2 separate regions of the Homo sapiens genome follow, and region 2 is linked to region 1. Evidence: fine-mapped expression QTL. A gene starts in region 1. The other region holds a variant in brackets. All regions are shown on one strand. Distances are between the middles of the regions.

What was found.
Region 2: its variant is fine-mapped to the expression of LINC00570 in testis (GTEx, PIP above 0.99).

Annotation. Positions count from the first base shown.
Region 1 is chr2:11,391,250-11,396,625 of GRCh38, forward strand. LINC00570 (long intergenic non-protein coding RNA 570) reads left to right here and starts at 2,732. Exons shown (of 3, transcript NR_047499.1): 1 at 2,732-2,922.
Region 2 is chr2:11,398,127-11,403,502 of GRCh38, forward strand. It overlaps LINC00570 (long intergenic non-protein coding RNA 570), which reads left to right. Exons shown (of 3, transcript NR_047499.1): 2 at 2,246-2,331; 3 at 3,899-4,951. Among named protein-coding and RNA genes, the nearest start is that of LINC00570, 6.8 kb to the left of the region's middle. The variant T/C (reference allele first, on the strand shown) is at 2,237.

The sequences.
Region 1 (5,376 bases):
CTCAGGCGATCCATCCGCCTCGGCCTCCCAAAGTGCTGGGATTACAGGTGTGAGCCACCACGCCTGGCCCAAGATGGCTTTATTAACCTGCCTTGCCTCCCTCTCTGCACTGTACTGACACGGGTTATTAGTCTGTAATAGCAATAGTTACCATGTAATCATCATGGTTCAAATTGACTCCCACTCACCACAAGCTAAGCACTTCACATTTCCTTTCCTCATAACCCTAACGAGTTGATCCTATGATTAGCCCCATTTTACAGATGAGGCAACAGAGCCTGAAGGGTGAAATAACATGCCCCAGACCGAGTGTGCCTGGACCCACAGTCCGAACAGAGCACTGCCTCACTGGCCCTGAGAGTGTCTGTCATCTGGAAGGTTTTGCTATTATTGTCATGCATGGTCCTAATCCAGGCAGCCCAGGATGTGAGCTAGGCAGGGTAACTGGTGTGGGGAACAGATCCCTGGAGCCCTGCCGCCTCTACCTTCCCGGTATCACCAAGGAAACCACAGCGCCTTTGTTGTTGCCATGGCAACCATCTAAACTCTCTCTTTCCCTTGGTTTCACCATGGAGACAGCCAACGGGAAAGAAGTTCCTGAGTGGGAGGCAGTACAGCAGGGAGAGGTGAGAACGCGCCTCCAGGAACCAGGACTGGAAATTCCCACTCTGCTGAGGAATGCAGAGGCATTCCTGGAGCTGCACAGAAGTACATTGTCGAAGCCGGGATGTCCCTGGGGAAACATAGGTTGAAAGAATTGTTTTCTGAATTTATTTCTAGAGGTTGCCTTTCCTGTAGTCAGCCATTGTCCAAACCAAAGGAAATTCCCAAATTTTCATATCTCACAGATGCTGAAATTCTACTCGGCCAGGTCTTTTCCCTGTCTAATTTTGCTTCCAACTTGCTGGATGACATTGGGTAACTCAAGTACATCTCCCCAAGCAAGTGTCAGATGAATCTGACAAGTTACACCAATGGCATTCAGGCCTCCAGACTTCTAGGCCAGGATAAGTTCTTTAAGAAAACACAAGGTTCCAACCCAGGGTTGCCACACTTTTTAAATTTCTATTTTTTTAAGACAGAGTCTTGCTCTGTCACCCAGGCTGGAGTGCAGTGGCACATTCTTGGCTCACTGCAGCCTCCGCCTCTGAGGTTCAAGCCATCCTCTCACCTCAGCCTCCTGAGGAGCTGGGACTATAGGCACATGCCACTATGCCCAACTAATTTTTGTATTTTTTGTAGAGACAGGGATTCACAGACTGTTGCCCAGGCTGGTCTCGAACTCCTGAGCTCAAGCCATCTGCCTGCCTCAACCTCCCAAAATGCTGGGATTACAGGCATGAGCTGCAACACCCGGCCACCACACTTTTACTTGGGGAGATCAGGATGTCAGAATTGAAAACTGCATTTAATCTACAGAGGCAGGGCGATGTGACAGTTAAGAGCGGGCACAAGGAAATCAGACCTGCCGAGTTCAGGTCCCAACTCTGTGACATGCTGCTGTGTGACTTGTACCAGTTTGATCTCCCCTAGCCTTAGTTTATTCAGAAGAAAAAGTGGGTTAATAATTAGGCCAGGCGCAGTGGCTCATGCCTGTAATCCCAGCACTTTGGGAGGCTGAGGTGGGCAGATCACGAGGTCAGGAGTTCGAGACCAGCCTGGCCAACATGGCGAAACCCTGTCTCTACCAAAAAATACAAAAATTAGCTGGGTGTGCTGGTGGGTTCCTGTAATCCCAGCTACACAGGAGGCTGAGGCAGGAGAATCACTTAAACCCGAGAGGCGGAGGCTGCAGTGAGCCAAGATCACGCCACTGCACTCCAGCCTGGGTGACAGAGCAAGACTCCATTCCAGAAAATAAATAAATAAATAAATAAACAAATTAGCCGGGCATGGTGGTGTGTGCCTGTAGTCCCAGCTACTTGGGAGGCTGAGGCAGGAGAATCACTTGAACCCAGGAGGCGGAGGTTGCAGTGAGCCAAGATCCCGCAACTGCACTTCAGCCTGGGTGACAGAGACTCTGTCTCAAAAAAAACCAAAATTGTGTCTTTCTCTTAAGGTTCTTATGGTGATTGAGATACACTGTGCAAGGCTTTTTAACACAATGCCCAGAACATGGCAACACTCAATAAATACTAGCAAATATCACCACCATTATTTCCATCATTTCACTGAAGACATTTTAACAACAGAAAAATATATATCTTGGCCAAAATGATAGTTTAAATTGCATGCATTGAGCTTTTGGAAGTGTCACTCATTGATTCTCTGTTTCTTCAGGGTGGACCTAAGAATCCCTGGATTCAGTGATCTTGGGATTCTTTCTGCTCTAAGACGCAACGCTTTTGGGGTTGTTAACAGCCTTGATTAGCAAAGGAATGTTCATGGCCCATGGCTAAAGATAAGTGATAAATCAGGTGCCCTTAGTGGCCATCCTGAACTTGGATTAGACTCCGACTCTGCACAGAGACCTTTCATGCAGGGCTGGACTATTTCAGGAAATCAGAACCACAGATATGTAATCCTTCCCTACTCTCCTCCTTGTCTCTGTTGGTGACGTCAGGCTTCAGCTACACTAGCCGTTAACTGAGGTCCGAGGGTCCTGGCCTGGGATCCGGAGCCCCTAACTGCCTGTTCTGCCTTCCTGCAAAAGCTGGTTGTTTGGGCCAGTTGGTTTTTGGTTTCTGTGCGGCCACTCCCACCCCCACCCCAGCTCCCTGACCACGGGCTGCGGAAGAGTGGGACGTTATGGAACCTTCTCAGCTTATTCAGAGAGGCTTCTTCTTCCTATTTAGTCTCCCTCTGGCTTTCCCTGCTGGGATCTGGGTGGTAGAAGCAGCAGGGGGATCAACGAACAGGCTGAGCGCCAAGAAGCCTGAAGATTCCAGAATCTAGCGGGAAAAGCATTCAGAGTCAGAATGAGTAAGCAACTTCATCTCCTGGCCTTTACTTTTCTGTAAAACAGAGGCAATTCTATCTCCCTCATGGATGTGATAAAATAATACTTTGACTAGTAATAATAATATTCATTCAGGAGTGGATCTGGGTGTTGTGGGGCCTGAAGCTTATTCAGTGTGGAGGGTCCTTTTTAAGAAAGAAGAATACAAATTTACAAACACATCAAATATAAAAGGGGATATTTACTTAGGAGAAAAAAATCACAACAAATTACAATTAAAAAGAAAAACTGGGCCAGGCACAGTGGCTCATGCCTATAATCCCAACACTTCAGGAGGTGGAGACGGGCAGATCACTTGAGTCCAGGAATTCCAGACCAGCCTGGGCAACGTGGTGAAACTCCACCTCTATAAAAAATGCAAAAATTAGCCAGGCGTGGTAGCACACGCCTGTAGTCCCAGCTACTCAGGAGGCTGAGGTGCGAGGATCACCTGAGCTTGAGAGGTTGAGGCTGCAGTGAGCTGTGATCACGCCACTGTGCTCCAGCCTGAGTAACAGAGTGAGATCCTGTCTCAAGAAAAAAGAAAAAAGAAAAACTGAACAAATACTACAAATATCACAAAATCTAGAAAAATAATGTACTACATTTTATTAATTGTCTTCTATGCTTCTAATACCTTTTTCCTACATTTTTTGGCTGCATGCATTTTAGTAGCTTCTTCCTATGGCAATGGTTTTGTGGTAGTATTTTCTGTTTCTATAAAGAGATTATAAAGTTAATTCAGTCTTTTCCTTAGCACAGTTGGTCAAAATTTGTTTTTTATTATTGATGGCTTCAACTAGGTATCAATGACAAGCAAATTCTCTGCTTGCAATTGCCATTACATATTCATGATTGGAAGCATTTCCTTCAACCTTGCCCTGCCTTGCTTCATCCCCACAAACCCATCCTTTTACAGCCAGAATGCATTTGTTTCAGTGTGACTTTGAGCACTGCACTTTCTGTCATGATGCCTGGTGAGTGGGCACCACAGGCCTCAGGAGGATTTCTAGAAACCACTCTTCCACCAGGATGGCTAGCAACAAGCTGATGAAAGTGATTTTGAAATGCATCAGTATATCCCATTTACCCAAATAAATGAATCTCCAGGCCAGGCCTACTCCTAACAAATGCATAGCCCAGGACGAGACTAGAAAGGAGGTCCCCTTTTCATATGTTTAAAATAAATTCCTGAAAGTCATCAATCACGCTAACAAACCGTTAAATACACTGTGTCCCATCCTTCTACCCTGACAATTTGAAAGGCCAGATTCAAATTTAGAATTCTCAGAATCCTGGGTTCCATCGGGAATGTGTTGTGTGGGGAAAGCTGGCCCTGCCCCCTGGCTGGCTGCCGGTTCTCCTTCTCCAGGAGGAAGCACTTTGCAGCCTGAGGGCTGTGGCACGTGTGTGGATAGCCCAGGCTCATGGCTAAGATCGACCATTCCCGTGTACACAGCATTTTGGCAGCCCCTCAGGCCTGGGGTTGCACACCAGTGTGAGCCGGCCTTTGGGAGGACGTGGGCAGCGGTCCTGACGGGCCCTGGTAGCATGACTGATGTTGGCAAGGGTCTCTGGGCCTGGAGTATCAATCCAGGTCTTCTGATAAGCAGATCCAGGAATGGAATTGGGGATGCAAGAGGGTTCCTGAGGAGAGACATTTTTGAAAGATAAAAAGTGACAGAGGAGGGTTGGTTGGGGAAGGCTTCAGATCACAATGCTGATCTGAAATGTGTCGAGGGCAAAAATGGGCAGGGAGAGCCCCACACTGTCCTGGAGATCATTTACAATGTGGTCAACCCGATGGGCAGTTCTGGTGCAGACTGCCCATCAGAGGGGTCCTGCTTTGGGCATAGAAAGCTCCCAGCATGCTCACTGCTGGCCGGGCCGCCCAGGAGGGGCTGTAGTGAATTGTGAAGGGGCTTCAGCTGGATGCTGCCAGCTAACTACTCTCCTTGCCGCTGACCAGCAAGTTCCTTCTGGAAGGGAGATCTGAGCCACACTCCTCCCTGACTGCCACGGTGCACAATAGCCAGATTGGCTTTAGTAAGTGGGAGTTCATGCTGCTGGGCCCATATGTCATCTCTGCTTCTGCCAGTTCATAGCTCATGGCATATGCTAGCTGACATCCGTGGCTGAGCTATTTTGCCTACTTGGCTATTTCGTGCCCCTTTCGTGACTAACGCTTTCAGGTAGTTGATATATAATGCAAAGATCACCATTCTTTATGTCAATTTCCATATATCCATGAACTGCCTCTCCCCCAGACCTCCTGGTCTCTGATCATTCATTCTTCTAGGCTGGCCCCTGACCAGTCTGCCAAGTCAGGTGATAAGGTGAACTCTTGCCACTGCCATGAGTTCAGATTTTTTTCACCTTTGGCAAAGATTCCTTCCACACAAAGTGCATGACCAGGGACAATGCTGGAATCCCCCTGA
Region 2 (5,376 bases), 6.9 kb after region 1:
ACAGCTTTTACTCTACAGGCCAAAAACCCAATGTGCGAGTTTTTCCAATGCCAATTATACGTTCAGGGACTGAGAAAATGACCTTAGGATGGATCCACGGAGCCAGTGGACCCACTCTCAGCTGGACTTCAGCCAGCACTCGCTTTCTTCCCTGGCTTTTTGCACGGCCCTACTCTAAGAGATGGGCTAGGAGGAGTCTTCGGATCTCTGGATGTCAATGTCAATTCAGATCTTCAGATAGTCCTTCAAATAGCTGAGCAACCCTCTTTCCCCAGCAAAAAGTCACTCTAGTAAATGGTCATAGGTCCTGTTGTTTATCTGAAATCTCTACTTTAAAAACTGTCATGTCACAGGATTCTTTCTCCTGGGTACCCAGCCACCTCTTCAGTCAATAGTTCTCCGTTCTGGAAACCGACTCCAGTCAGGGGCTGTGTCTCATGCCTGTAATCCCAGCTACTCGGCAGGCTGAGTTGGGAGACTCGTTTGAGCCCAGGAGATCGAAACCAACCTGGGCAATGTAGTGAGAGCCCGTCTCAAAAAAAACAAATAAATAAAATGACATTGAGTAAACTAAAAAGTCATATTTTTCAAAAAGCTAACTCCAGTCCAGTTTATATATACACACGTAAATACACACACACACACACACACACACACAGCAGTCCACGTATGGGCCGCCCCTCACTAGCATTGCTGTATTCTGTCAACATCTCCTTCACTCTGGAAGTCAAGCCCTGTTGGCTGCCACTCCAGCCTTGCCAGTTGTTACAATGGGTGTGACCTTCTGGCTCCCGGCGATTAAGCACTTACCATGTGCCTCTCCTGCTTCAGGGCACCACGCCAGCCTATAAGCAGCCGCAGGGGTTGAGCCCTGCAGAGCCCCAGAGGCAGAGCTGCCCAAGGCTTTGGGAGCCCACCTCTTGCATCACTGTGCCCTGGATGTGAGACGTGGAATCAAGGAGATTATTTTGGAGCTTTAAGACGTAATGGCACCCTGCTGGGTTTCAGACTTGAGTGGAGCCTGCAGCCTTTCTTTCGGCCGGTTTCTCCCTTTTGGAACGGGAGTATTTACCCAATGCCTGTACCCCCATGGTACGTTGGAAGTAACTAATTGTTTTTGATTTTACAGGTTCATAGGTGGAAGGGACTAACTAGCCTTGTCTCAGATGAGACTTTGGACTGTGGACTTTTGAGCTAATGCTGGAATGAGTTAAGACTTTGGGGAAGGAACAGTTGAGAAGGCATGATTGGATTTTGCAATGTGAGAAGGACATGAGATTTGGGAGCGGCCGGGGTGGAATGATACCGTTTGGATCTGTATGGATCTGTGTCTCCATCCACATCTCATGTCAAACTGTAATCCTCAATGTTGGCGGAGGAGCCTGGTGGGAGGCGATTGGATCATGGGGGCAGGTTCTCATGAATGCGTTAGCACCGTCTCCCCAGTGCGGCTCTCATGATAGAGTTCTCACAAGATCTGGTTGTCTAAAAGTGTGTAGCACCTCCTCCCCCTCTCTCTCTCTTCCTCCTGCTCTGGCATGTAAGACGTGCCCGTGTCCCCTTCCTCCACCACAAGATTGTAAGTTTTCTGGAGCCTCCCCAGAAGCTGAGAAGAAGCTGCTATGCTTCCTGTTCAGCCTGCAGAACCGTGAGCCAATTAAACCTCTTTTCTTTATAAATTACCCAGTCTCAGGTAGTTCTTTATAGAAGTATGAGAATGAACTAATAAACCTGGTCTTAAGCCCCACCCTGATCAACACCCTCCCTGCCTGGACCCCCCTTAGCGCCCACTGGTCTATGGCAGTCCACTCTTGCAGCACCTTTGGGGGCTCTTGCTTTCCTCCCTTATCAAGCCTAGCCTGTCCCCAGCTGGGTTATGCTGCCATTTAATCCTACTTATTGGCTTTGCAGCCAGGAAAGGAGATGGGGGCAGATCCTGAGGGGGGCCCTGCTATCGTGTAGGGGAGAGACCTCTACAGGGTGGGGAAAGGGCTGACTCTTGAGAGAAGTGGCAATCCCTGCCAGCACTGAGGGCTCAGAGGGGTCTTGGGAACCAAAGTCATCAGGGGCATCCGCCACCTGGGTCTTCCCATCAGAGCAATTTCCCAAGTCAGCATCACTGAAAGCATAGCAATTGGGTTGCTGTGTCATCCTAGGCACCCCTCTGTGCCTCCCAGACCACCTGGGATGGAGCCCTCATGCTAGCTGATCAAGGTGCCACGCCCTCTCTTTATTG[T/C]TTTCTCAGGCCACTTCCAGCATCGATGGTGTCAGGTCAGGTCCTCTGGGTAGAAGAAATGGAGTCAGTTAGGAGTGCTGGAGACTGAGTAAGAGGTAAGCCTTGTTAACGTGATAGGAGGATGAAGCAGGATTGGGCAGAAAAAGACTTCATATCCCAATGCCAATCTGAACCTGTGAAAGGAACTAGAGAAGGAGCAGAGTAAGCAGGTAGAGGCTCAGAGTGAGATGCCATCTGATGAAACCTGGTCCAACCCAATAGGGAGCTATAGTGAAAGACTGCCCATGAGAAGGCTCTCCCACTGGCAGAGCTGGCCAGCCACTAGGATTCCTGCTGTGGTCCCTCTTTAGCTGAAGGCTGCCTGGTGGAAGTGTGGCCTTGACTCAGACAGTGTGGCAGATCCTGATGCTGTTCTAGCTGGAGGTCTCAGCTAACTGCAGCCCTTGCTGCTGACAGCATGCTCTTCTTTTTTTTTTTCCTGTGGTTTTTTTTTTTTTTTTTTTTTTTTTTTTTGAGACAGAGTCTCTCTCTGTTGCCAGGCTGGAGTGCAGTGGCGCAATCTCGACTCACTGCAACCTCTGCCTCCCGGCTTCAAGTGATTCTCCTGCCTCAGCCTCCCAAGTAGCTGGGACTGCAGGTGTGCACCACCAGGCCCAGGTAATTTTTGTATTTTTAGTAGAGATGGGGTTTCACCATGTTGGCCAGGCTGGTCTCGATCTCTTGACCTTATGATCTGCCCACCTCAGCCTCCCAGAGTGCTGGGATTACAGGCGTGAGACACTGCACCCAGTCCCTCATGCTCTTCTTCAAGGAAGCTCTGAGAGGCAGATTCCCATGGCTGCCGCACCTGAGGAGTAGCCTGGAAGAGGGTGAAGCTCCCTTTGGCCCTGTAGACTCCTTGCCCTTAGGGTAGAAATGCAGCTAGAGAAGGACAAGAGAGGAGCTTCTGAAAGTAGAGGGTGTGCACTGCCCTAGTCCAGGCTGAGGATGTTACTGTGTAGACCCAGTTCGACTTCCCTTCGGCTAAAGCCCCAAAGAGCCGCATCACCACCCAATACAAGCAGATGTGTGGTGGAAACGAAGTCTGAGTGGGAGATGTGGGCTTCAGGAATTGTTAAAATATTATATCTTGATTTTTGCATATTTTTTAAAAACATGCTGCGCCGGGCACGGTGGCTCACGCCTGTAATCCCAGTACTTTGGGAGGCCCAGGCGGGCGGATCACGAGGTCAGGAGATCGAGACCATCCTAGCTAACACGGTGAAACCCTGTCTCTACTAAAAATACAAAAAATTAGCCGGGCGTGGTGGTGGGTGCCTGTAGTCCCAGCTACTCAGGAGGCTGAGGCAGGAGAATGGCATGAACCCGGGAGGCAGAGCTTGCAGTGAGCCGAGATTGTGCCACTCCACTCCAGCCTGGGAAACAGAGTGAGACTCTGTCTCAAAAAAAAAAAAAAAAAAAAAAAACCCAAAACAACAATAACAACAAAAAAAACCATGTTAATCTATTGCTTGAGTCCTCCCAAGGTTGGGGAAGCAGCTCTTCCAAGGGAGGCCTGAAATTTAAGCTGCATTATCTTCGTGATGATTCCATTTCTGCATTAACTATTGCTATGGTTTTCATATTGGGTAGTTCCTGTAATTTGAGATCCTTCTTTTTCAGGTGGCAGCTGAGGCTTACTACCCCAGGAAAGGGATGCCACCAGAGAAGGCAGACAACCAAGATGGCGACTCTCAATTTTTGAGCTCCTAATTTTCTCATGTCAGACATAAGAAAAAAAAATATTTTTTAAAGAAAAAGCTTTAGGTTGCAAAAATCTAGGCCTTTCAACTTTAAAATCCTATTCTTGCAAGCCTTGGAGAATAAAGCTTATGCATAAACAGTAGATTTGGAAACAGAAATATGCCTAATTACCCAGAGCCATTCTTTCAATACGCCAGTGATTGTTTAAAGATTCTATAGGCTGGAGTCAATGGCAGGAGGCGGGTGGGAAAAGAGTCAAGAGGGAGGAGAGAAGAAGCAAGAGGGTTGGGTAGATATTGTCACATGACCCTGAGAGGAGGATTCTGGGTCAAACCCCTAGGGGGTTGTGTGTAATGGAGACTCCAGATCCATTTGGGAATCTGGCTCCAAAGAAGACTTCACCTTGCCTTCTGAGTGGAGCCCTGAAGTGGCAAGACTCATAGAATTCCCCCACGGGTCCACACAAGAGAGAATGAATAGAGAAGGCTGCGTGCTGGCTGGACCAAGGCAGCCTCGGGTGACACCACCACCACCACCGCCGCTGCCGCCATCGCCATCACCACTGCCGCTGCCATCACCGCCACCACCACCACCATCACCACCACCATCACCACATTATGGACAATAGCCCAATGTTTCCTGAGTTCCCTAGAGGGTTGAAAGAGAATAGGACCTAGAGAGATCACATAGTTGGGACAGGCACTCATTAATTTGATCCAATGACAAGAGACCAGATGGGAAGAAGGATGCCTTGAGAGATGTCAGTGTGCACCCATGGATAGAAGCAGCTGGTGACTGGGTACTTGGGAAGCCACATGGACACACACAAAGCTCCTGGAAGACGTTTTCAAGGAGTTGGGCTGTGCTGGGATCCAGAACTGGCTGAAGAAACCATGAGCTGACATAAAATTTCTGCCACCTAGCAGAATGGAGGCTCCATTTGGAAATTAAATTATATACTTAAAAAAACTATAATTGCTTCATTTCTTTTTTTTGAGATGGAGTTTCACTCTTGTTGCCCAGGCTGTAGTGCAATGGCACCATCTCAGCTCACTGCAAACTCCGCTCCCGGGTTCAAGAGGTGATCCTGCCTCAGCCTCCCGAGTAGCTAGGATTACAGGTGTGCGGCCACCATGCCCCGCTAATTTTGTATTTTCAGTAGAGACGGGGTTTTACCATGTTGGTCAAGCTGGTCTCAAACTCCTGACCTCAAATGATCCACCCACTTTGGCCTCCCAAAGTGCCAGGATTACAGGCATGAGCCACTGCGTGAAGCCAAATGCTTCATTTCTTTTTTTCTTTTTTTTTGTTGAGAGGGAGTCTCACTCTGCCGCCCAGGCTGGAGTGCAGTGCCGCAATCTCGGCTCACTGCAAGCTCCCGCGTTCACGCCATTCTC